Homo sapiens: one gene and its partners. The protein of the gene in region 1 purifies or fractionates together with the protein of each later gene. This does not show direct contact. Each region holds a gene or a part of one and is shown in the gene's direction. Other genes may lie near its edges.

Evidence for each region.
Region 2: the proteins of ATIC (region 1) and GNPDA1 fractionate together in Homo sapiens (co-fractionation; one large-scale study listed by BioGRID). This does not show direct contact.
Region 3: the proteins of ATIC (region 1) and TYMS fractionate together in Homo sapiens (co-fractionation; one large-scale study listed by BioGRID). This does not show direct contact.
Region 4: the proteins of ATIC (region 1) and OXCT1 fractionate together in Homo sapiens (co-fractionation; one large-scale study listed by BioGRID). This does not show direct contact.
Region 5: the proteins of ATIC (region 1) and CMBL purify together in Homo sapiens (affinity purification with mass spectrometry; one large-scale study listed by BioGRID and IntAct). This does not show direct contact.
Region 6: the proteins of ATIC (region 1) and GART fractionate together in Homo sapiens (co-fractionation; one large-scale study listed by BioGRID). This does not show direct contact.
Region 7: the proteins of ATIC (region 1) and NAE1 fractionate together in Homo sapiens (co-fractionation; one large-scale study listed by BioGRID). This does not show direct contact.

The regions. Positions count from the first base shown.
Region 1 is NC_000002.12:215,343,059-215,346,558, forward strand, and holds part of ATIC (bifunctional purine biosynthesis protein ATIC), read left to right. Parts: intron 1-1,720; coding exon 1,721-1,813; intron 1,814-3,500. UniProt on the Homo sapiens protein: Bifunctional enzyme that catalyzes the last two steps of purine biosynthesis.
Region 2 is NC_000005.10:142,000,171-142,003,027, reverse strand, and holds the end of GNPDA1 (glucosamine-6-phosphate deaminase 1), read left to right. Parts: intron 1-898; coding exon 899-999; 3' UTR 1,000-2,357; downstream 2,358-2,857. UniProt on the Homo sapiens protein: Catalyzes the reversible conversion of alpha-D-glucosamine 6-phosphate (GlcN-6P) into beta-D-fructose 6-phosphate (Fru-6P) and ammonium ion, a regulatory reaction step in de novo uridine diphosphate-N-acetyl-alpha-D-glucosamine (UDP-GlcNAc) biosynthesis via hexosamine pathway.
Region 3 is NC_000018.10:660,653-664,152, forward strand, and holds part of TYMS (thymidylate synthase), read left to right. Parts: intron 1-1,493; coding exon 1,494-1,668; intron 1,669-2,333; exon of another isoform or gene 2,334-2,353; coding exon of another isoform or gene 2,354-3,500. Other genes in the region: ENOSF1 (mitochondrial enolase superfamily member 1), read right to left, coding at 2,354-3,500. UniProt on the Homo sapiens protein: Catalyzes the reductive methylation of 2'-deoxyuridine 5'-monophosphate (dUMP) to thymidine 5'-monophosphate (dTMP), using the cosubstrate, 5,10- methylenetetrahydrofolate (CH2H4folate) as a 1-carbon donor and reductant and contributes to the de novo mitochondrial thymidylate biosynthesis pathway.
Region 4 is NC_000005.10:41,807,926-41,811,425, reverse strand, and holds part of OXCT1 (succinyl-CoA:3-ketoacid coenzyme A transferase 1, mitochondrial isoform 3 precursor), read left to right. Parts: intron 1-3,500. UniProt on the Homo sapiens protein: Key enzyme for ketone body catabolism.
Region 5 is NC_000005.10:10,283,903-10,287,402, reverse strand, and holds part of CMBL (carboxymethylenebutenolidase homolog), read left to right. Parts: intron 1-906; coding exon 907-1,049; intron 1,050-3,500. UniProt on the Homo sapiens protein: Cysteine hydrolase. Can convert the prodrug olmesartan medoxomil into its pharmacologically active metabolite olmerstatan, an angiotensin receptor blocker, in liver and intestine. May also activate beta-lactam antibiotics faropenem medoxomil and lenampicillin.
Region 6 is NC_000021.9:33,507,618-33,511,117, reverse strand, and holds part of GART (trifunctional purine biosynthetic protein adenosine-3), read left to right. Parts: intron 1-1,197; coding exon 1,198-1,335; intron 1,336-3,500. UniProt on the Homo sapiens protein: Trifunctional enzyme that catalyzes three distinct reactions as part of the 'de novo' inosine monophosphate biosynthetic pathway.
Region 7 is NC_000016.10:66,813,977-66,817,476, reverse strand, and holds part of NAE1 (NEDD8-activating enzyme E1 regulatory subunit), read left to right. Parts: coding exon 1-52; intron 53-448; coding exon 449-512; intron 513-804; coding exon 805-896; intron 897-3,500. UniProt on the Homo sapiens protein: Regulatory subunit of the dimeric UBA3-NAE1 E1 enzyme. E1 activates NEDD8 by first adenylating its C-terminal glycine residue with ATP, thereafter linking this residue to the side chain of the catalytic cysteine, yielding a NEDD8-UBA3 thioester and free AMP.

The DNA.
Region 1 (3,500 bases):
ATTGTTTTCCAGAGTGGCTTGTACCATTTTGTATTCCCACCAGCAATGGATGAGTGATCCAATGTCTCTGCATCCTTACTAGCTTTTGGTATTGCTACTTTTTTTTTTTTTTTAAAGACATGGGATAGTTGTGTAGCAATCTCTCACTGATTTTAATTTGCATAATAGCTCATGATGTTGAACATTTTTTTGTGTACTTATTTGCTACATGTGTATCCTTTTTGGTGAAAATGTCTGTCTTTTGCCCATTTTCTAATTAAATTTTTGATTGTTACTGAGTTTTTTTGTTTTGTTTTGAGATGAAGTCTCGCTCTGTCACCTAGACTGGAGTGCAGTGGCATGATCTTGTCTCACTGCAGCCTCCACCACCCGGGTTCAAGTGGTTCTCCTGTCTCAGCTTCCCAAGTAGCTGGGATTACAGGAATGCGCCACCACACCTGGCAAATTTTTATATTTTTAGTAGAGATGGGGTTCACCATGTTGGTCAGGCTGGCCTGGAACTTCTGACCTCAGGTGGTCCACCCGCCTTGGCCTCCCAAAGTGCTAGGATTACAGGCATGTGCCACTGCGCCTGTCCTGTTACAGAGTTTTTAAAGTTTTTTTATGTTTTAGGTGCTAGTTTGTTGTTGGATATGAGGTTTGTTAATAATTTTCTCCTAGTTCGTAGCTTGTCTTTTCATCCTCTTTAATGAGGAATCTTTTACAGAGGAAAAGTTCTTAATTTTACTGAAGTCAAATTTATCAACTTATCTGTTGGCTGTAGCAAATATCCTCTGTCCATTTAGCATACAGACGTGGACTATCATCCTTCTTTTCCATTTGTATTCATGCCTGATACTAAAGATAGTGATATTTTTGGGCGTTATTCTTGTTGTTCTATTTGGACTGGTAATTCCTAATGGTTTTTGAACAGTTTCAACTTAAGTTATTCTAAACAAAAGAGAAAATGATCGTAATTTGATTTTTCCAAAGTCTTGGCTGTCTGTGTGCATCATAACGATTTGTGATGTCTATGAAACAATTCTCCGCATTGGTTCTGAACGTAAATTTTACCATGTCTCCAGATATTTAAAAGTACTCTGGTCAAGAAAATATTGTTTGTCAGTTTTGGAATGGATATGGTAGTTCTTACCTCATGTGATATAAAAAGGCTTAATCCACAATTGCTACAAAATAACATGAGTTTGTGTCTATGGATGCATTGTGCTAAGTTCCACCCCAAATGTGTTAAATATTTAAGTAAATCATGGTAGTGTGTAGGAGAACAGTTAATTTCCCTCTGTCATTTGAGTGGTATAACTATGTTGTAGGTCTTTTACATTAAATAGAACTAAGAAACTTAAAGTTGGCCAGGTGTGGTGGCTCACACCTGTTGTAATCCTGGCACTCTGGGAGGCTGAGGCACGTAGATGACTTGAGCTCAGGAGTTCGAGACCAGCCTGGCCAACATGGTGAAACCCCATCTCTACTAAAAATACAAAAATTAGCCAGGCATGGTGGTGCATGCGCCTGTAATTGAAGTGTGAGAATCTCTTGCACCCGGGAGGTGGAGGTTACAGTGAGCCGAGATTGTGCCGTTGGAGATTGTCCCATTGTGCCTGGGAGACAGAGTGAGACTCTGACTCAAAAAAACCACAAAAAATAATATTTAAAAAAAGAAGCTTAAAGTTAAATGAGTTTAAAAGGCCCCATGCAATTTACCATTGTGTATGTGTTTCAGTTGCCAGAGTCTGCCCTCCGAGACCTCATCGTAGCCACCATTGCTGTCAAGTACACTCAGTCTAACTCTGTGTGCTACGCCAAGAACGGGCAGGTAAGTGGGCTGTTGGACTCGCCTTCGGGGGACTGTTGTTTTACGAAATGATATTTAAACATCCGTCTGCCTTAGATATTGGACAGCTTGAAAGGGAATATTTGCCAAATGTTTGTCTTTTGTGTTTGTCAGTGTTTCCTCAGTACCCTGGTGGGCTGTTAAAACTAATGATGATCAGAAAATATCTTTGGAACCAGGTACTCAAAGTAGTTGTGCTGCTTCTTGCCTTGAATAGGTTGGCACATTTTGGATTAGTGAGACTCTAATAGCTGTTACAAAACTGGATTATTTCCTTTCCTTTTCCCCCATTGGTATTATTTCCAGGGAAGAGGAGGTAAGTTACGGTACTGCCACCCACCAGCCTATATTTTTGCAGCCTGCAGGGTATTTTCACATTATTTCTTATGTTGTCTTATCAAGAATCTGCTGAGTAGAAAGACTGCTAGACTAGGAGTTAACTTCATCTTTAAAAAGTTAGGTTCATTGAGGCATAATTTGTATACAGTAGAATTCACCTTTTTAAAGTACAGTTTGACCAGTTTTCACAAATTTCACAGTATGTGACCGCTGCCACAATTAAATACCAAACATTTCTCACTGTGTGACGTTAAGCAAGATATTACACTTCTTTCCTAGTGTCCCGAGCCTCAGAATACAAGATGGAGCTGGTTCATCTCTGAGGTCTCTGCTAGCCTTTTCTTCACCTGGTGTCCTGAGCTTATCTCTTGGCATTTGTTAAATTATTTGGCCCACAAGTGACAGGGAGGTGGGTGGATATGAATTAGCCTATGGCCTGGAAGACCCCAGATTGCCAGTCTCTGTAGTAACAAACTCCTGGGAGATTGTGTCTACTGGTGTCAGGTTCTAAGAAGTTCTGTAAGTCCATGTAGAATGAGTGCTTCATTCCTGATGTTGAGGAGGAGGCGGCTGCCCAGGTATTTGTGGTCTCTTTTATTCTCTTGTAGCTGTGGGCAGGGTTGCCAGCAGCTGTGCTCAGAAAGAGATGGACTGTTGGGCAGACAGCTTAGGGGCTGTTCATTATAGGAACTAAAACCAGAAAACACACCTGTGCATTTAAGTCCTTGTTGCTTAGAATTCAACCCATAGAAATAGAGGAAAGAAGGAAGAACATTTGTACCTGGCGGAATTGTTTCTACTTTTAGCTACCCATGTCAGATCCTTATCTCAATTTCTGAGAGTTGATATTTTAACTGTAATTTATACACTGGGGCAAACAAAAGACTTTCAAGTAACCATAGTTATTTTTGTGGTCATTAGTTTTATTTATTTATTTATTTATTTTTTATAGAGACAGGGTCTTGCTCTGTTGCCCAGGCCAGAGTACAGTGACATGATCATAGCTCATTGTAGCCTTCGACTCCTGGCCTCAAGCGGTCCTACCACTTCAGCCTCCTGAGTAGCTGGGACTGCAGGTGTGCGCCACTACCCCTAGCTATTTTTTAATTCTTATTTTTTGTAGAGATGAGATGTTGCCATCTTGCCCAGGCTGGTCTCCTGAGCTCAAGCAATCCTTCTGTCCTAACCTCACAAAGTGCTGGGATTACAGGCATGAGCCAGTGCACCCAGCATTGGTCATTTATTTTAACTTTTTTTTTTTTTTGACCTCAAACCATCAATTTTATTGAATTGTAGATTATTAATAGTCATATGTCACATATCACTGAAG
Region 2 (2,857 bases), on another chromosome or scaffold:
GTAGATCCAGCTTTCATCCTCTGGTCATTTTAATTGACAACTGTAATCTTAAGAAATATCAAACCCAACTGCATCACACTACACAGTCATTTCTCTTCTGCCTGTGACTGCAAAGATCCATTTCTGGAGATCTGTTTGCTCTGAGGAGGAGGAAAGAAAACGCAATGTGGTCCAAGGACTATGTGGTGACCTCACAGTGCCATTAAGCCTCAGGTTTTCTCTTTTCAAATCTTAAACAAGCGATTCCTTTCTTTTATTTACTTTCTTTCTTTTTGAGACAGGGTCTCACTCTGTCGCTCAGGCTGGAGTGCAGTGGTGTGATCTCAGCTCACTGCAACCTCCACCTCCCGGGCTTAAGTGATTCTCCTTGCCTCAGTCTCCCAAGTAGCTGGGATTACAGGTGCCCGCCACTATACCCAGTTAATTTTTGTATTTTTAGTAGAGGCGGGGTTTTGCCATGTTGCCTAGGCTGGTCTCAAACTCCTGACCTCAGGTGATCCACCCACCTCGGCCTCCCAAAGTGCTAGGATCATAGGTGTGAGCCACGATGCCCAGCCCTTCTTTTACTTTAAAAGGATGCACACTGCTTTAGGCAAACATGTGAAAATCCTCTTTTACTCAAGTAGGTCAATTAGGAATTTGTCCTTTGCTGAAAAGACTAACCTTTAAATAGCCAACTCCCATAGTGATTGAATTTATAAAAGTTCCATGAATGTAGTACTCACTGTGAATAACTCTTTTTATACTCTTAGGGTGTTTATCATTTGGGGATCATAGAGAAAAGAGAGAAGTGTCAGCTCTAAGACAAAATTTGAGAGCTCCTGGATGTTATGATTGATAATCAAGGAACTCTTGCCACTGCCTGAATTAACTACTTTTTGTTTTTAATTTTTTGTAGGTTTAATGCTTGTTCATAACAAGTTGGTGGACCCCTTGTACAGTATCAAAGAGAAAGAAACTGAGAAAAGCCAATCTTCGAAGAAACCATACAGCGATTAGCCTGTGCTGGGACCTAGTGTCAAGTACCCATAGGGAAAGGCAGGTCTTTCTGGAAATTGTCTTTAGAAGAAAGAATTGTATTTCTTTAATCTAGTATGGTTACTCCAGATAAGTGGGTGAACTTATTGTTCTTGGCCATGAGGCTGGGAGCCTAGTCACGGAGTTTAGCTATAGGGAGAATGTTTGTAACTTAATCAGAAAAAAAATATCTGCAAAATGTACTCCATCATTTTGATGTCTGCCAAACCCAGGTTGGGAGTTTTAAACTTTTTGTTCTGCTTCAGCCATGGTTCACACATATGACACACTCCCGTCAGGAATTTCTCTCCTTACACGCACTGATTTTCAAGTGGGAGGGAATTAGGGGCTTATGTATATTGGATACCACCTCTTTGAAGAGTCTTGAGAGTCCTTCTTGCACAGGCCTGCCCCTTGGTTGAGAACCATTGTTCCAAGTGAAGGCACAAACTCTCAATATCTAAAATAAGTGCAAGGAAGCAGTCTCTTTGGTCAGTAACAAGTGCAATGGAAAGAAAACGATCCCTTCCTTCTTCCACTTTCACAGCTTTTCTCTGAACTAGGAGAACCTGGGGGTGGATTTGGGTGGGTGGGGCCAAAGAGGAGGCTTCTATTGATAAATCCAGAGCCTCAAGGGGCCCAGCCACGTCAAACTTCTCTCCCTCAGGGACTCTCCAGCACCAAAAGGCAGAAGGTGGAAGCCGTTTTTCCCCCAGAGCCCTGTGTTTTTGTGAAAGCCTCACTGTGGCTCCTCTGTTTTACATACTCATTAGTAAGTGGGAGGTCCACTGGGGCAACAGACACTGCCACAATTTCAGTGTTGTGTTCAGCCAAGGGGACGGTCTGGGCAGGCAGCTTAAGTGTGAGTTTAGTCACAACTCCTGAGTGTCCCGCTCTCCTGCTTACCTAGGAGGTGAGTGCCAGGAAAATACACCAAATGCTTCTAGTATTGTTTCCCCACTTAAAATAGTCCTGCTTAAATTCACATGGTGTGGTCTGATGTTCTGAGAGCATCAGGAAATACAACCCTTTTGCCCATTTACCCTTCTCCCCGGATCCCAAGGTGGTCTGTTGCTCTGGCTTCCTTTCATTGTCTTAGGCCTTCATGGAGTGGATGCTGCCTCCTCCTGGCTGTTTTTGTGCCTGTTTGAAGCTACTGCTGCCTCCATTTCTGGGAAAGACCTTTGAGAGCCTAGCCCAGGCCTAAGGGCTATGTTTGGTACCAGTGTTTTGTCTTTAGCTTTTCTATGTGATTGTGCCGTCATTCTGTTTTAAGCTCATGGATCAATGGATTTGTTTACAATGTGATATTTTCTATTAAATCCAGTATTTTCAAATAACATGTCATTTGTGGATTTGAGCCCCCAATTTTAGAAGACTCTCTGGGCTATTTATATATTTTAGAAAGAGCTGGTAAGCAAAGCCTCACATTCAGTCCTCACAAGAGCCTGCAGGAAGGCCACAAGCATAGCAACCATCATCAGAGTGAAAAATAAGATTTTATGAAAATGGAGCACTTACAGGAAAAAGGGTAGGAATGAACAGATGAGCAATAAATTGTCATGTTGGGGCTGTACCTGAGATCCAAACGAGGATACAGCTGTTATAAAGATTAAGGCAGATTTGTGATGAGGGATATTATTGCAAGGTATGCAAAAATACATATAGGTTTTTTTTTTTTTAAAGTTAATATAATGGAATATCTTAGGGCAATATAGCCAATTAAGGAGGTAGATATAGAAGTTAAAAGAAGGGTTTAATTTTTTTAACTATTTTGAGGCTGGGTGCAGTGGCTCATGCCTATAATCCCAGTGCTTTGGGAGGCCAAAGCAGGAGAATC
Region 3 (3,500 bases), on another chromosome or scaffold:
CAGAGGGCTGAGTAGGTACCTCAGGCCGGGGCCAGAGTGCTGTGAAGACAGGCAGCAGCCCAGACCAAGCTTCTCTGTGTTCCGTGTCCTGGTCTAGAACCAGCGATGTTCTTTCTGACCAGTGCTTTTTGGAAGGTGGCTGAGGTCTGGGCTCAGGTCTGGGCCATACTAGAAGCTGGGATCCCTTCTATAGAGCACTTGGTATGGCTTGTATGGTCTTGGGGCAAGCCAGACCCAAGCCCTCTTATCCCATTTTAGAAAGGGCTTCAATTTGGATCCAGCCCCAGGTCTGCCTTAGCTCTGTATTCTTGGGGTATTTTGTTCTGTATTGGCCTATCTTGACTAACAATGAACCTTGGATTTGAAACATATCATCAGAAACCTCAGAAGACAACATTCTTAAACTGGCTAGAGCCTGGTCTGAATGGATGAAAAGGAGAGACTTTTGAAGCAATATGTAAAAGATTGAGAAATGATTTGTTGGAAATTTCTCAATTGGAGAAATTTCTTTGATTTGTTGGAAATTTCTTTGATTCTTTCTCAATCAAAGAAAATCGGGACAAACTCAACAATAGAAAGGGAGGAAGCAAGATACTCAGAAATAAAATGCATTCCCCTGTTTCAACTTAATGCTTCAATTCAGGATTCTAAGGAATCCTTGCCAGGAATGTCAGACTCACCTTGATAGTTGGAGTTACTCCATTGGTGACTCGATCAAATACAGGAGTTGAGGCACCTGCACTGTAAAATACTGATTAGTCTGATCATTAGGAATATCCTGTATGCCAGGTAGAAGATACATTGAACAGATTGCATGTAGGCATTAAATTCATTTTGGGGTATTACATATAGACAACACATTTCATTAAGAAACATAAAACTGTCAGATCGGTGGAATACTTAAAAGCACTTGGAGGTGTTTAGCCTAAAAAGCTTAGTTGAGGGGAATGGAAGAAAAGATCTGGGAGGGTGGTTCCAAAGAAGGGATCAGACTGTCCTAAAGCCCTCAGGAATCTGGGCTGGGACCAGCCTACTTAAAGATAGGATGGGCAGCTGGGTGTGGTGGCTCACGCCTGTAATCCCAGCACTTCGGGAGGCCGAAGTGGGCGGATCACCTGAGGTCAGGAGTTCGAGGCCAGCCTGACCAACATGGAGAAACACTGTCTCTACTAAAAATACAAAATTAGCTGGGTGTAGTGGCGCATGCCTGTAATCCCAGCTACTCGGGAGGCTGAGGCAGGGGAATCGCTTGAACCTGGGAGGTGGAGGGTGCCGTGAGCCACGATCGCGCCATTGCACTCCAGCCTGGGCAACAAGAGCGAAACTCTCAAAAAACAAAAAAAAGGATGGGTTCCATATGGGTGGTGTCAAGTGCCCACCTCCTAGCAAGTCAGCAGGGGCCAGAGGCCCTTGTAAGTGGTGTCTCGGGGGGATCAACTGAGATGGCTTAGGATTTACCTGGATGCCTGCTCTGCTCTCCCCATCTCTTCCAGGGATCCACAAATGCTAAAGAGCTGTCTTCCAAGGGAGTGAAAATCTGGGATGCCAATGGATCCCGAGACTTTTTGGACAGCCTGGGATTCTCCACCAGAGAAGAAGGGGACTTGGGCCCAGTTTATGGCTTCCAGTGGAGGCATTTTGGGGCAGAATACAGAGATATGGAATCAGGTGAGGAGATAGAACAATGCCTTCCATTTCCCGGGTGCCCTTCCTAGCATGTGTTTGCTCCGTTGTTTTAGATAAGGTCTGGGGGATGAGTCAATGTCACAGGAGCTGATGTATAGCTTTGACCTTGTGAGGGGTGGTGCCAGGTTAAGCCACAATTAAGCCTCATGAAGGCCGTTTCACACTCTTTTTTTTTTTTTTTTTTAATTATTATACTTTAAGTTTTAGGGTACATGTGCACAATGTGCAGGTTAGTTACATATGTATACATGTGCCATGCTGGTGCGCTGCACCCACTAACTCATGATCTAGCATCAGGTATATCTCCCAATGCTATCCCTCCCCCCTCCTCCCACCCCACAACAGTCCCCAGAGTGTGATGTTCCCCTTCCTGTGTCCATATGTTCTCGTTGTTCAATTCCCACCTATGAGTGAGAATATGCAGTGTTTGGTTTTTTGTTCTTGCGATAGTTTACTGAGAATGATGATTTCCAATTTCATCCACGTCCCTACAAAGGACATGAACTCATCATTTTTTATGGCTGCATAGTATTCCATGGTGTATATGTGCCACATTTTCTTAATCCAGTCTATCATTGTTGGACATTTGGGTTGGTTCCAAGTCTTTGCTATTGTGAATAGTGCCACAATAAACATACGTGTGCATGTGTCTTTATAGCAGCATGATTTAATAGTCCTTTGGGTATATACCCAGTAATGGGAGGGCTGGGTCAAATGGTATTTCTAGTTCTAGATCCCTGAGGAATCGCCACACTGACTTCCACAATGGTTGAACTAGTTTACAGTCCCACCAACAGTATAAAAGTGTTCCTATTTCTCCACATCCTCTCCAGCACCTGTTGTTTCCTGACTTTTTAATGATTGCCATTCTAACTGGTGTGAGATGGTGTCTCATTGTGGTTTTGATTTGCATTTCTCTGATGGCCAGTGATGGTGAGCATTTTTTCATGTGTTTTTTGGCTGCATAAATGTCTTCTTTTGAGAAGTGTCTGTTCATGTCCTTCGCCCACTTTTTGATGGGGTTGTTTGTTTTTTTCTTATAAATTTGTTTGAGTTCATTGTAGATTCTGGATATTAGCTCTTTGTCAGATGAGTAGGTTGCAAAAATTTTCTCCCATTTTGTGGGTTGCCTGTTCACTCTGATGGTAGTTTCTTTTGCTGTGCAGAAGCTCTTTAGTTTAATTAGATCCCATTTGTCAATTTTGTCTTTTGTTGCCATTGCTTTTGGTGTTTTAGACATGAAGTCCTTGCCCATGCCTATGTCCTGAATGGTAATGCCTAGGTTTTCTTCTAGGGTTTTTATGGTTTTAGGTCTAACGTTTAAGTCTTTAATCCATCTTGAATTGATTTTTGTATAAGGTGTAAGGAAGGGATCCAGTTTCAGCTTTTTACATATGGCTAGCCAGTTTTCCCAGCACCATTTATTAAATAGGGAATCCTTTCCCCATTGCTTGTTTTTCTCAGGTTTGTCAAAGATCAGATAGTTGTAGATATGCGGTGTTATTTCTGAGGGCTCTGTTCTGTTCCATTGATCTATATGTCTGTTTTGGTACCAGTACCATACTGTTTTGGTTACTGTAGCCTTGTAGTATAGTTTGAAGTCAGGTAGTGTGATGTCTCCAGCTTTGTTCTTTTGGCTTAGGATTGACTTGGCGATGTGGGCTCTTTTTTGGTTCCATATGAACTTTAAAGTAGTTTTTTCCAATTCTGTGAAGAAAGTCATTGGTAGCTTGATGGGGATGGCATTGAATCTATAAATTACCTTGGGCAGTATGGCCATTTTCACGATATTGATTCTTCCTACCCATGAGCAT
Region 4 (3,500 bases), on another chromosome or scaffold:
CCTGTATGTTTTCAGGGTACCTGTGATAATTTGACATATTCGTATAACATAAAGGTAAAATCAGGGTAATTGGGATATTCATTACCATATTTATCTATTCTTTATGCTAAGCACATTCAAATTATTCTCTTCTAGCAACTTTGAGAGGTACAATAGATTTTTAACTATAGTTATCCTATTTATCTATTGAACGTGAGGTCTTACTCACATTTCCTCTTCATTTTACTCATTTTACTTCATTTTAACATCCAGAGCACCTCTGCATTTAACTTGTAACTTCTCTTATTGCTTATTGTCTCCCCCTTTTATTTTTCTAGACTTCCACAGCTGCTTTTTTTTTTTTTCCCTCTCTTTTGGAGTTAATGTTTCTCATGATTCTAGACATTATTGCTTGTTGTCTGTTTTTTTTCTTTTCTTTTTGGCAAAAGAAGTTTCCTCCTAAACTTTTTTGAAACTTAAAATGAGTCAGGAAGAAAGCCTGGAATGTGAGTCTCCCTCTTCCTCCCCCTCAACAGCCCTTACTTTGTATCGTACACAGAGTTTTGCAGGTGTGTATAATTTTTCGCTAACACCATTTAGGGTTGGGTCCATTTTTGTGTCTATAACAGATTGAGGTTGTCACTAAAATAAAATAAAAAATGAGGACGTTATTGCCTTGCAGCTCCTCTTTTCTCTTACCTGAGATATAATGTTTGCCAAGCAATCACAAACACATTGTCACCAAGGGATGAATTCTTATCCTTCTCTAAGCTTTAAAATAAGTTTTCAGTTATAAAGTAGGAAGAGTGCAGTGCAGAGAAAGCAATCTTTTAAAACAAAGTTCAGATCAATAACAACATTTCCTAGTGTCTATTTTTCTGTTAATGACTAAAGACAAGTACCAATTAGAGAAGCCTCAAACGTCTGGATTTCTGGTTGTAGCAAGTGGTGGGGCATGAGAACTATTCATAGTGCCATGGAGAAGTCCGGGTTGTTCTTAGCTACCTCTCTTCCATCTTGATCTTGCCTGAGGATACTTACATCTGCCCATTGCTTTGCCCTGAGGCTTTTCCTTTGTCCTTTATTCTTTATTACCCATTTCTAACTTCAGGAGGAAAACTCTGCCATCTTTAGTAAGGGATCTTTTATTTTTATGTTTGTCCTAACCAGCTCATTTTAGTCATCATTTTCTCATCAGGTTTTCCATTAACGCTTATGTTTAAATCGCCTGATCTCACTAGACTTTTTAATCCTCCCATTGCTCCTTCCTTATTGTTCTCAAGATCACACGAAACTGGCACTGAAGTCAGTCCCTTCAATAGCTAGCATTAAGATAGTTCTGCCTCTTCATTTTTTTTTTTAAACTCTTTTCATAGATTGTCTGAAAACATGTTTTCTTCTTTTGGTTTGTACTTCAAATATTTTCTTTCTTAGCTATTAACTCTGCTAACCAACTCTGAGAAAGCTTTGATTTTTGTATAGACGTTTTCAATACTGTTGAGTGTTGTTATTTTGACAAATGCTGCACATGCATTTTCTACAGTCTGAAAGCCATTTATATTAGGATGACAAAACATGGAATTGTTTATGTTTAGCTAGATTCTTGCTTATCGGAGTTGTTTTACCAGGACATATTCATTCTGTTAGTTCTGAGAGTTATGATATAATTGTCCTTGGTAATGAAGCTTTGTCTTGATTTGGTGTTTTCTGTTGAAACATTCTTTGATGGAACCAAAAGAAAATAGTGGCGGGTTTCCATCAGCATTTTCAGTTTAAGTGAGCAATACTTTTTTTTCTTCCTTTTTTATTATGTTCTTTGCCCCTGCTAGAGGGTAAGGCAGGAAGACCAAAGGAAGCTGCTGTCACAATCATAGCAAGAGATTTGAGGGCCTGACCTTTTGGAGCAATATTAGGCATGAAAAATAATTCACATTATTATTTTCAAATGTGCAGGCAAGAAGGGTTTGCTTAGTTTAGTTCATAATGTGACTGCTTTTAGGGTTTAGAAACTTCAGTTTTTCTTAGACTCTCTATTTTCTTTTTAACATGCCCTCTTTGGTACATGTCAAACTAATTGTGAGATTTATCACATGCTCCACTTATGATTTTCTAGTTTTAGAAACTTAGTGTTTATCACATCTTCTGAAAAAATAACATTGTGGGTTTCAGTTTTGATTATAAAAGTAAAAGGAAAACAAAAACCACTTGTACTATTACCCAGAGATAACAATTCTTAGCATTTCCGTGTGTTTCCTTTTATTTTCTGTAGGTATATAAATAATTGTCTATCCCAAAGTGCATTTCTATAAATTTTTATTTACTTATACAAAATCTTGCATTTTATGAAACATGAAATTATGAGATCATTAAATATTATGAGTGCATAATATTGATTAATCACATGGCTACACCATGTTTATTTGACCATTTCCCTATTGCTGACATTAAAGTTGTTTTCAATTCATTATTATAATAAATTTTGTGATTAGTGTTTTCATGAATAATAAATCTTCATGTCTATCCTCAGGATACTGGATTAATGTATAAACACATTTTTAAAGTCAAGAACTTCTTTGAAGGCTAAAACTGAATATGGAAAGATGTGAATGAGCCCTAATGGCTGAAAGTTCCAACCAGTTGAAGAGGTAGCAGTAGTGCTTAGCTGCTCTGCATTCCCCACCTCCACCTCGAATAGAAAATACTGGAGCATACAGAGTTTTCAAGGGGAGGACATAGAGTGCAGTGGCAAGGGGTCTTCGGCCCCACTTTCCCTGTCTCCTCACTCATCCCCAGATGCCTCTCTACCCAGTAGTTCAACTTGGATGCCGACATATTTTCTGACCTTTCCTTGGAATTTTTGTTTGATTTTTCTGTTTATCAAAGAAGATAGCTTTTATCCACCATGTCCTTGCCTTTTTCAGCTATTTGTGAGCATTGCACAATAAGTAAAATGTCTTCTGTAAGCCCTGGTATTCTTGCACTGTAGGAGGAGCCTAGTGAAGGCATATAGTAGTAGAACAGCATAAGAAGGGCTACTTAACCTCACAGATTTCCAGATTTCAGTGATTAGTTTAGGAAACAAAAATCAATACTACTATCCTTGTATAAGTCAGTTCATGGAAGCAAACGTTTGTTTTGGACACTGTATCTGTTAAGCTGAGTACTCACAACTTAAAGGTGTGTATGTTTGTGTGCGTGCGTGTCACCAGAAAGCTAATTCTTTCACCACAACAATGTTGAGTTTAGTTTTTCTTGATCCTTGTTCTTTTGAACTGTTTTATGTTGATAGAAAAATTGTCTTTTAAATTAATTCTAAAATAACAGACTAATGTGGAGGCATTTCATATTGCTATATGACCTTATTCTTGGTGAATGACTTTGATTCTAATTAAATTGAGTATTTCTAGTTATTAATTAATATTTCAGTTTTGAAGTTTCCATATTGGAATTAATTATCTGTCTTTAAGTAAATTATTTCAGCAATTGCAGTTGTATCACGATCCTAGGAAGCTAACAAGAAT
Region 5 (3,500 bases), on another chromosome or scaffold:
TACAGTATTTGGTTTTCCATTCCTGAGTTACTTCCCTTAGAGAAATGACCTCCAGCTCCATCCAAGTTGCTGCAAAAGATATTATTTTGTTCTTTCTTATGGCTGAGTATAGTCTATGGTGTATATAGGCCACATTTTCTTTATCCACTCATTGGTCAATGGGCGCTTCGGTTGCATATCTTTGCAATCGTGCTACAATAAACATACGTGTGCAGCCCACCTCCACTTTGGTACATTGCTTCTAGTTGAAAATGTATTCTGAGTTCCAAACAATCAGTTTGCACATGAATCATTTGCCAGACAAGGGCCACTATTCTTGGTCCCCTCATGGCTGAAATAGTCCTGATGGCGTTCCAAATTTGGCTTCACTGGGCGGCAGGGGGAGGAGACGAGCAATGCAGAGTGGGGAGTTTTGGGGAGAGAGTGAACGTGTGAAGTCAGAGAGTGTCTGGGCGTCTGCCCATAGTTATGGCTGCTCATGGGAGAGAGGAGAGAGGAGACTCTTCTCCTGGGAGACTCAGGGGACAGAGAAGACTGGGGCACTCTGCAGGGAGCAGATCATGGACTCGGGTCTTACGAACCGTGCTGTGGGCTGTGGCCTTCATCCCCAGGCTGTGGAAGACTGCTCAGCTCTCAGCTGGGAGTGAGGCAGTTGGACCTATGTTTTGGGAAGAGCCCAGCTTGCCTGCAGCTGTCAGGCAGTTGGAGGAGGGCTGGGCTTGGCAGGAAGATGTGCTGGGATGATGCATCAGTTGGGCCAGAGGTAGTAAGGGTGGAGCTCCCAAAAGAAGAAACCTTGGCAACTTCAAAAACAGTTGCTGATACAGCCCTGTTATCATCAGCACAGCTCTTTGAGGGGTTCACAAAATAAGCCTGATTCTTGAATATTTTTTCTTTCTGTTCTAGAGAGATCAGTGCTATCTTGAAGTATCTGAAACAACAGTGTCATGCCCAGAAAATTGGCATCGTGGGATTCTGCTGGGGTGGAACTGCTGTCCATCATTTGATGATGAAATACTCAGAATTCAGGGCAGGGGTGTCCGTCTATGGTAAATCTGCCTTGTGCATTTTTACTCCATGCAGAAGGGAGGGGTGGAAGAGTGACAACAATCACAAGCCTCCCCATCCAGTGTAACACAACCCCCAATAATGTGAAGACTGCCCATCTTATGGAAATGGGTTTTAAGAATCTGAAAATAGAGGTGGAGGTTTGTCATGCAGTTAACCAGAGGATGTCACCGGGAGTCAAGAGGTCTGGGTCCCAGTGGTGTGACTTTGGGAAAGCCACCTAATCTAAATTCTCCATTTCTTCACCTAGGATGAAGGGGATAGCTTTTTTTGTTTTTTTAATGTAATGATGATCAATATCACACAAGATTTTTATGAGCAACATCTATGAAAATATTTTTCTGGTGGTGGCTAATGCCTGTAATCCCAACACTTTGGGAGGCTTAGGCAGGCAGATCACTTGAGCTCAGGAGTTCGAGACCAGCCTGGACAACATGGCAAAACCCTGTCTCTACAAAAAATACAAAAATTAGCTGGGCGTGGTCACGTGCACCTGTAGTCCTAGCTACTCCGGAGGCTGAGGTGGGAAAATCGCTTGAGCCCAAGAAGGTCAAGGCTGCAGTGAGCCATGATCATGCCGCTGCACTCCAGCCTGGGTGACAGAGCAAGACCCTGTCTCAAAAAAAAAAAAAAAGAAAAAGAAAGAGAAAGAAAGAAAGAAAGACTGATTTTTCCAAGATACAAATTGCTCTAACTGTACACAAACATGCACACACACTAAGAAAGAAAGCAAAGGCAGCCAGATGCGATGACTCACGCCTGTAATCCTAGCACTTTGGGAGTCCAAGATGGGCAGATGGCTTGAGCCCAGGAGTTCGAGACCAGCCTAAGCAACATAGAGAGACCTTGTCTCTATAAAAAATTTTAAGGCTGGGCGTGGTGGCTCACGCCTATAATCCCAGCACTTTGGGAGGCCGAGGTGGGTGGCTCATGAGGTCAATAGTTCGAGACCAGCCTGGCCAATATGGTGAAACCCCGTCTCTACTAAAAATACAAAAATTAGCTGGGCGTGGTGGTGGGCGCCTGTAGTCCCAGATATTCAGGAGGCTGAGGCAGGAGAATCGCTTGAACCCGGGAGGTGGAGGTTGCTGTGAACCAAGATTGTGCCACTGCACTCCAACCCAGGCAACAGAGTGAGACTCTGTCAAAAGAAAAAGAAAAAAATTACTTGGGTGTACTGGCACATGCCTGTGGTCCCAGCCTCTCAGGAGGCTGAGGCAGGAGAATCACTTGAGCCCAGAAGTTTGAGGCTGCAGTGAGCTGTGAATGCACCACTGCACTCCAACCTGGATGACAGGGAGTGAGACCTTGTCTCTTAAAATAAAAAATAAAAAAAAAAAAGGAAAGAAAGCCAAGGAAAACACACTCTAAAATCGAAATAGCAATTTATACATTTTTGGCCAAAACAAACCAAAGTTACTACAGCAATGAAATAACATTATATCTGTATATAGAAACTGCTTGCTAAATTCATGATATAGAAGCATTCAGACCAATAGATAAACGAAAACAAAAAAGACACATAGGAAATATAGCCTTTAAAAATAATGCAGATGCTCCTCTACTTACAATGGGGCTAAGTCTTGATAAACCCATCATAAATGGAAAATATCTCAAGTCGAAAATGCATTTAATCCACCTCACCTACCAAGCATCATAGCCTCACCTGGCCGACCCGAAACACCTGCATCAGGCTACAGTTGGGCAAAATCATCTAACGCAAGGCCTATTTTATAATAAAGTCTTGAATGTCTCATGCAGTTTATTGAATTCTGTACTGAAAGTGAAAAACAGAATGGTTGTCTGGGTACTTGGGGAACAGTTTCTACTGAATGAGTGTCGCTTGTGCACCATTGTAAAGTCAAAAAATGAAAGTGGAACCATCGTTAGGCCTGGGACCATCTGAAGTGGATCATAAAGTTATACTAATGATTCCTTCTTGGGTTAATGGTTCCTCATTGTGGTATTTTCAACTACTTTTAGAGTTAAAAACGCCTTTAAATATTGACTTAGGACAACACAAAAGGACATAAACTCAAAAGGCAGTGGCCAGCTGCCTCTGGGAACAATGGAGCTGAGAGATGCTTTGTCCAGACCATGCTTTTGCGCGATTTAGCAAAAGGCGGTCGGGAGTGGATGCCTCCCCGGCGCCACCTTCTGGCCGCTGTTGTGTAGTGCGTGAGCTGCAGAGCGTGGCCGGGCTCAGGCCCAGGGATATCAAAAGAGGCCCATCCACATGAAGTAGCTTTGCTAGAGTGGGGAAGGGAGCGTGGTCACCTTTCCCGTGGCTCCCTGCCTCCTGAAGAGGAGTTACAGGTGAAGGAGGCTCTCTCTGTTACTTAGCTCTTCTGCTGCCAGCAGGAAGTGGAAAAAAGTTATGTTATTTACGTCTTCTTATCTTAAAATGGTTAACTTGCTGCAAATCTTTTACT
Region 6 (3,500 bases), on another chromosome or scaffold:
TAACATGACAGCACCCACCCCAGCGATACCACGTATCTCTTCATTTCTGCCTCAGAACTAAGCATTCATGCATGCACAGCCACACCCCACAGGATCGCTTCCCAAAGTAATCTCCCTACACACAAGACCTCATGGCTCTGCTGTCACTCAGCTCGATTCAAGGAATAGCGAGCAAGCACCCTGACAAGTACTGTATCAGTCAGGACTCTGCGAGAAGTGCTAGAACTTGGCAGAGGGGCAGAAAATCCACTCAGATTCACTAACAAAGACGTCACATGCTTGCTTTGGCAGGACACATACTAAAATTGGAACGATACAGAGAAGATTCACAAAAATAAAAAATAGAAAAAAAAAATGTCAGACCTTGTTGACTTTACCTGTATCTGCCTTTCTTTCCTCTATTGTGTAGGATTCATTTTCAAGCGGGTTCTCCAAATGCCGGAAAGATAACATCCTTCAGCTCACATTACAATAAGAAAGAGAGACCCAGCCGGGCGTGGTGGCTCACGCCTGTAATCCCAGCACTTTGGGAGGCCGAAGCGGGTGGATCACGAGGTCAGGAGATCAAGACCATCCTGGCTAACTCAGTGAAACCCCGTCTCTACTAATAAATACAAAACATTAGCCGGGCGTGGTGGCGGGCGCCTGTAGTCCCAGCTACTCGGGAGGCTGAGGCAGGAGAATGGCGTGAACCTAGGAGGCGGAACTTGCAGTGAGCCGAGATCGCGCCACTGCACTCCAGCCTGGGCAACAGAGCGAGACTCCATCTCAAAAAGAAAAAAAAGAGAGACCCTCTTTTTCTTAACATCGCATATCAAGCCTTTAAATGGCTTTGCTAGGTCACATGCTTATCCCCGAGACCAGGAGATCATGGCACTACTGTGGGTGGTCTCGCTAGGAAGATTTGGGGAGTAGGGGCAGAATACTGGCAGGCAGTCATATATATCCACCGTGCACTTCAAGATAGTGATGTGATCTGCAGCTTTTAGTTGAAGTAATTACATATGTTCACCTTTTGGAAGTTTTTATGAAAGAGTAGTGTTAAGTGATACAAATGTGTTGTTCATTTTAGTCCTTGCATTATCTTATTTTCAGGATAAAACATACCCTAAAGTTTTCATAAAATATTTTTCTTTCCATTATTCTTGTTAATTCACAATTGTTCTTTACTTATTTATGGATATGTTTGAAATGAAGGTTCCCCACGTGTGAAAGTCAAGAATCTGATTGAAAGCATGCAAATAAATGGGTCAGTGTTGAAGAATGGCTCCCTGACAAATCATTTCTCTTTTGAAAAAAAAAAGGCCAGAGTGGCTGTCTTAATATCTGGAACAGGTGAGATGTGGCTTCCCCTTCACTGTAGAGCTGTTGACTGCCCTTCCTTTCCTCCCCGCACTCTTGTGAGATTGTAAGGTTACTCTCGGCAGAGTCTAGGGACTGGGGGGAATCATGAGGGTTGTCTTTGTCTTTTCAGCATTCTTAGTCTTTCCACTTTTCTTAGGAATTTGAGACAGCTCCCAAAGAAAAAAGTAAAGGATGTCAGAAAGCTGGTTAAAGAGAAACCAGAAAAGATAGAAGCTACAGCTCATTTTGTATCATAGCTTTGTTGTTGAAAAGTCTGAAAACAGTTGAGGAATTTTTATTGTTATCTTATTAATTAGAAGAAGTTTATGTTTAACCTTTATGGATAGAGGGGTAAAGTAATAAGAGTATTGTATTCTCTCAGATGGATGTAGCCTGATTTTTTTCCCTCTATTGTAAGTAACACTGCTATGAACATTCTTGCAAATATTCAGTATGTTCTTAAATGCATATGTGATTTTTTTTTATTTGATGGCCAAGATCATAGTGATTCTTTTTGAGACAGTCTTGCTATGTTGCCCAGGCTAGAGTACAGTAGCTATTCACAGATGCAGTCATAGTACACTGCAGCTTCCAGCTCTGGCCTCAAGCAATCCTTCCGCCTTATTAGCCCCCCGAGTAGCTGGGACTGCAGGCATGCAGCACCACAACCAGCTCTGATACTTCTTCAGGATTCATTCCCAGAAGTTTAATTGCTTTACAGGTCGATCTTAAGGTTTTAATGTACTTTAGGCCCAAGTTGATAATAAAGCAAAGAAGCTATTGTAAGATGCAGCCATAAAAAAGAATAAAACCACATCATTTGCAGCAATATGGATGGAACTGGAGGCCATTATCCTGAGTGAACTGCCTCAGAAACAGAAAACCAGATATTGCATGTTCTCACTTATGAGTGGGAGCTAAACAGTGGGTACATGTGGACATAAAGATGGAAACAATAGGGCCGGGTGCTGTGGCTCACGCCTGTAATCCTAGCACTTTGGGAGGCTGAGGCGGGCGGATCACAAGGTCAAGAGATCGAGACCATCCTGGCCAACATGGTGAAACCCTGTCTCCACTAAAAATACAAAAATTAGCTGGGCATGGTGGCACACGTCTGTAGTCCAGCTACTCTGGAGGCTGAGACAGGAGAATTGCTTGAACCCTGGAGACAGAGGTTGCAATGAGCTGAGATTGCACCACTGTACTCCAGCCTGGAGACAGAGCAAGACTCCATCTCAAAAAAAAAAAAAAAAAAAAAGATGGAAACAATAGATACAAAACAGGGAAGTGTGGGAGAAGAGGTGAGGGTTGAAAATTTTTCTATCAGGTATAATGTTCACTATGTAGGTAATAGGTACACTAGAAGCCCAGTCCCCACCATTATACAACATTCCCATGTAATAAACAAGCGTGTGTACCCCCGAATCTAAAATTTTTTTTTTTTAAAGAAACTATTGTAAGAGTCATAGCATAGTGGTTTGTTCTTGAGAGGGTCAGTTTTTCTTGCTTAATTAAGCAGCTTATTTCTCATCAGTCAGTTTTAACATAATGTTATACTGTTTCTACTACAATGCTAGATCACAAGATACAGAATTTGTGGGAGCAATTACATATCCTAGGAGCAATTACATATCCTAAACCACGTCGTTTGCAGCAATATGGATGGAACTGGAGGCTATCCAGGAATATCTGTGCTTTTCACAATCTATTAATCCATTATCCCAAGAGGAAGGGAGTTTTTTTAATTTTTAATTTGTATGGGTACATGGTAGGTATATATATTTATAGGGTACATGAGATCTTTTGATACAGCCATACAACCTGTAATAATCACATCCCTGTAAATGGGGTATTCATCACCTCAAGCATTTATTCTTTGTGTTACAAACAATCCAGTTATTTTATTTCAGTTTTTTTTTGTTTTGTTTTTGTTTTTGTTTTTGAGATAGAGTCTCACTCTGTCGCCCAGGCTGGAGTGCAGTGGCGCAGACTCGGCTCACTGCAAACTCCGCCTCCCAGTTTCAAGTGATTCTTCTGTCTCAGCCTCCTGAGTAGCTGGGATTACAGGCACCTGCCACTATGCCTGGCTAATTTTTTGTATTTTTAGTAGAGATGGGGTTTCATCATGTTGGCCAGGCTGGTCAGGCTGGTCTTGA
Region 7 (3,500 bases), on another chromosome or scaffold:
TACTCCATGGATTGTGATCATAGCTAAATATTTAGCACAGTGGTATAGTGAAGTATGTCCTTTTTTAAAAAAAATTTCATATGCAACTGTATTTTCAGTTTCTTACAAAGGATTTCCTTGATGGGGAATGGGAGATTAATTTTTTTTCCTTATGGAGTTGTATGGTAGGGCAAATGGATGCTTTTAAATTTAAATCTAGCAGTTCCTCTTTTGATCCTGATAATTTTAATTAAAATGAAATTCAATAAATGTCATTATGAAACTGGCAGGGGGAATGAATGTAGATAAATGGTCACAGTGTCTGTTTTCTATCAAGTGAGCCTCTGATTTCACAGAGAAATATATTTGTTGATGAAATCTTATGTAGAGAATGGGGGACACTTTAGACTTTCAATTTCTGTATTTTGAATTTTAATAACTAGATTTTTAAAATTTTTAACCAATTTAGACAAATGGACGAATACCTAAAACGTATAAAGAAAAAGAGGACTTCAGAGATTTGATTAGACAAGGTAATATGGGATATGATTAAATACTGTATAAAGCTTGAAAAGCAAATTGCTAGAGGCAGGTACTTATTGGATTTCTGTTAACACCTTTGTCAGATGATAGCATCATGAGCTTTTATTTTCCTTCTGGAGAAGTTAAGAAGCCACGCCTTGTATAGTTTTAAGGACTAATGATAAGCCGTATTTCTTCTTAAGATTTAATATTCTGCAGGATCTGACAAGGTTATTTTTATAATGGGGGAACAGAAGAGTGAAAAGAAAAGGGCTGTTTGCTAACAATTTCCCATTACAATAGGAATTCTAAAAAATGAAAATGGGGCTCCAGAAGATGAAGAGAATTTTGAAGAAGCTATTAAAAATGTGAACACAGCACTAAATACAACTCAGGTAATGAAAGAGTTGCTGAGGGATTCACATGAACAAGATGTTTTCTAGAGTCCTTGGCTATTAAATGGTTGACTATAATGATTTAAGTTAATATTTTCTAAATGTATAGTTAGAAATAAATACAGGGCCGGGCATGCTGGCTCATCCCAGCACTTTGGGAGGCTGAGGCGGGTGGATCACCTGAGGTCAGGAGTTCGAGACCAGCCTGGCCAACATAGTGAAACCGCGTCTCTACTAAAAATACAAAAATTAGCTGGGCATGGTGAACATACCTGTAATCCCAGCTATTCGGGAGGCTGAGGCAGGAGAATCACTTGAACCCAGGAGGCAGAGGTTATAGTGAGCCAAGATTACACCACTGCACTCCAGCCTGGGCAACAGAGTAAGACTCCGCCTCAGATGCCTTTGGTTTTGTTATGGCTTAGTTGTTGAGGTCTGACCATTGAAGTTTTTGGGGAGCTTTGGAATAACACCTGGTAGTTTAAGTTAGAATTTTCTTGTAACTTAAAACAGCAAATATGCTGCCTTTCAAGTTAGGAAGGCACGTAAGATATTATTACCAACTTTTTAGAGACAACAAGGCAGTGTTGCTGAGTGATTAAAAGTGTGCTGGCTGGGGCCAGGCGCGGTGGCTCACACCTGTAATCCCAACACTTTTGGGAGGCCGAGGAGGGCAGATCACATGAAGTCAGGAGTCCAAGACGAGCCTGGCCAACATGGTGAAACCCCATCTCTATTAAAAATACAAAAAATTAGCTGGGCATGGTGGTGGGCACCTGTAATCCCAGCTGCTTGGGAGGCTGAGGCAGGAGAACCGCTTGAACCTGGGAGGTGGAGATTGCAGTGAGCTGAGATCTCATCAGTGTACTCCAGCCTGGGCAACAAGAGCGAGACTCTGTCTCAAAAAAAAAAAAAAAAGTGTTTGCTGGCCAGGTGTGGTGGCTCACACCTGTAATCCCAACACTTTGGGAGGCCAGGGCAGAAAGATTGCTTGAGCCCAGTTCAAGACCAGCCTGGACAACGTAGGGAGATCTTGTCTCTACAAAAAATTTAAAAATTAGATGGGTGTGGTGGCATGCACCTGTAGTCTCAGCTACTCTGGAGCCTAAGGTAGTGGGAGGATCGCTTGAGCCTGGGAGGTTGAGGCTGCAGTGAGCCATGATTGTGCCACTGCACTGCAGCCTGGGCAATGATATGAGACCCTGTGTCCAAAAAATAAATGTGCTTTGTGAATCACTTTTCTGGGGTGATGAACATTTTCTGTTTTAATTGGGGTTATGGTTAAAAATATGTATATATAGTTATCAAAATGCATTGAATTGGACATTTGAAATCTCTGTATTTCACTGAATATAAAACCACAGTTGAAAAGAAAAGATTCTAATAGTTGGGGGGCAGTAAGCTAAATAAACAGATAAAAATGCACCAGGTGCTGTGAACAAAATTACAGCAGAACAAAGGGTCAGAGAGCATGCTGGGGACAAGGGAATCCGGGGTTGAGAGACAATTGTACATAGGGAGCCAGGGAGACTTTCCAAAAGACATTTAAGCAGAAGCCTGAGTGAAGTGACACGCAGAGGTCTGGTGGAAGAGCTTTTCAGTTGGAGGGAGCACATGTGCAAAGGCCCAGAAGTGGGATGAAGCTTGACTTTTGTTCAAGCATCAGTAAGCAAGTCAGTGTGATTGGAGTGAAGTGTAAAAGGGGGAAAAGTGGTAGGAAGGATTTGAGTTTGGAGAGGCAGAAAGGGCCAGATCATAAAGGCCTTGCAGGCTATTTAAGCATTTCAGTCAGGGAAGTGGATTGAGCTGCTTTGTATTCTAAAAGACCATTCTGGCTTTCATGAGGAGAACACAATTGAGGGGACTGGGAGTGGAAGCAGAGAGAGCAGTTAGGAGGTCCCACTGAGACATTTCTTTTTTCCACCCATCAGTAGAATCCAAGCCTATGATTTGTGTGTGTGTGTGTGTGTATTTTTTTTTTTTTTTTTGAGACAGGGTCTCACATTGGTGCCCAGGGTAGAATGCAGTGACACAATCACTGCTCACTGCAGCCTTGACCTCCTGGGCTCAAGTGATCCCCCCACCTCAGCCTCCCAAGTAGCTGGGACCACAGGCACGTGCCACCACGCGCAGCTAATTTACTTTTATGTTTTCTATAGACGGGGTCTTCCTGTTTTGTTCAGGTTGGTCTCAAACTCCTGGGCTCAAATGACCCTCTCACCTTGGCCTCCTGAATGCTGGGATTATAGATATGAGCCATTGTGCTCAGCTTTATACTCTTGATTAACGTATGAAGATCTTGCTAGCAATAAAATTACTTTATGGTTTTAGTTTTTTTCAGAGTGGTTGTCTCAACGGTCACTAATTAGGGTGCAAGGGTTTCAGATTTTTGACAAGATGGAAAATCATGATATACTGCGAGTCTATAATCTGTTTTGTCTTCAGATGTAACTATATAAAATAATTTACTGGGGCCCCTTCTTTACCCCATTTATGGTATAAGAGAATAGGTATTAAATGGTAGCAACAGTGGGCCGGAGAGGTCTTTCTTCCATTCTTTCCCCATCAAATCTTCATATGGTACTGATTCTAAATAAAATTATA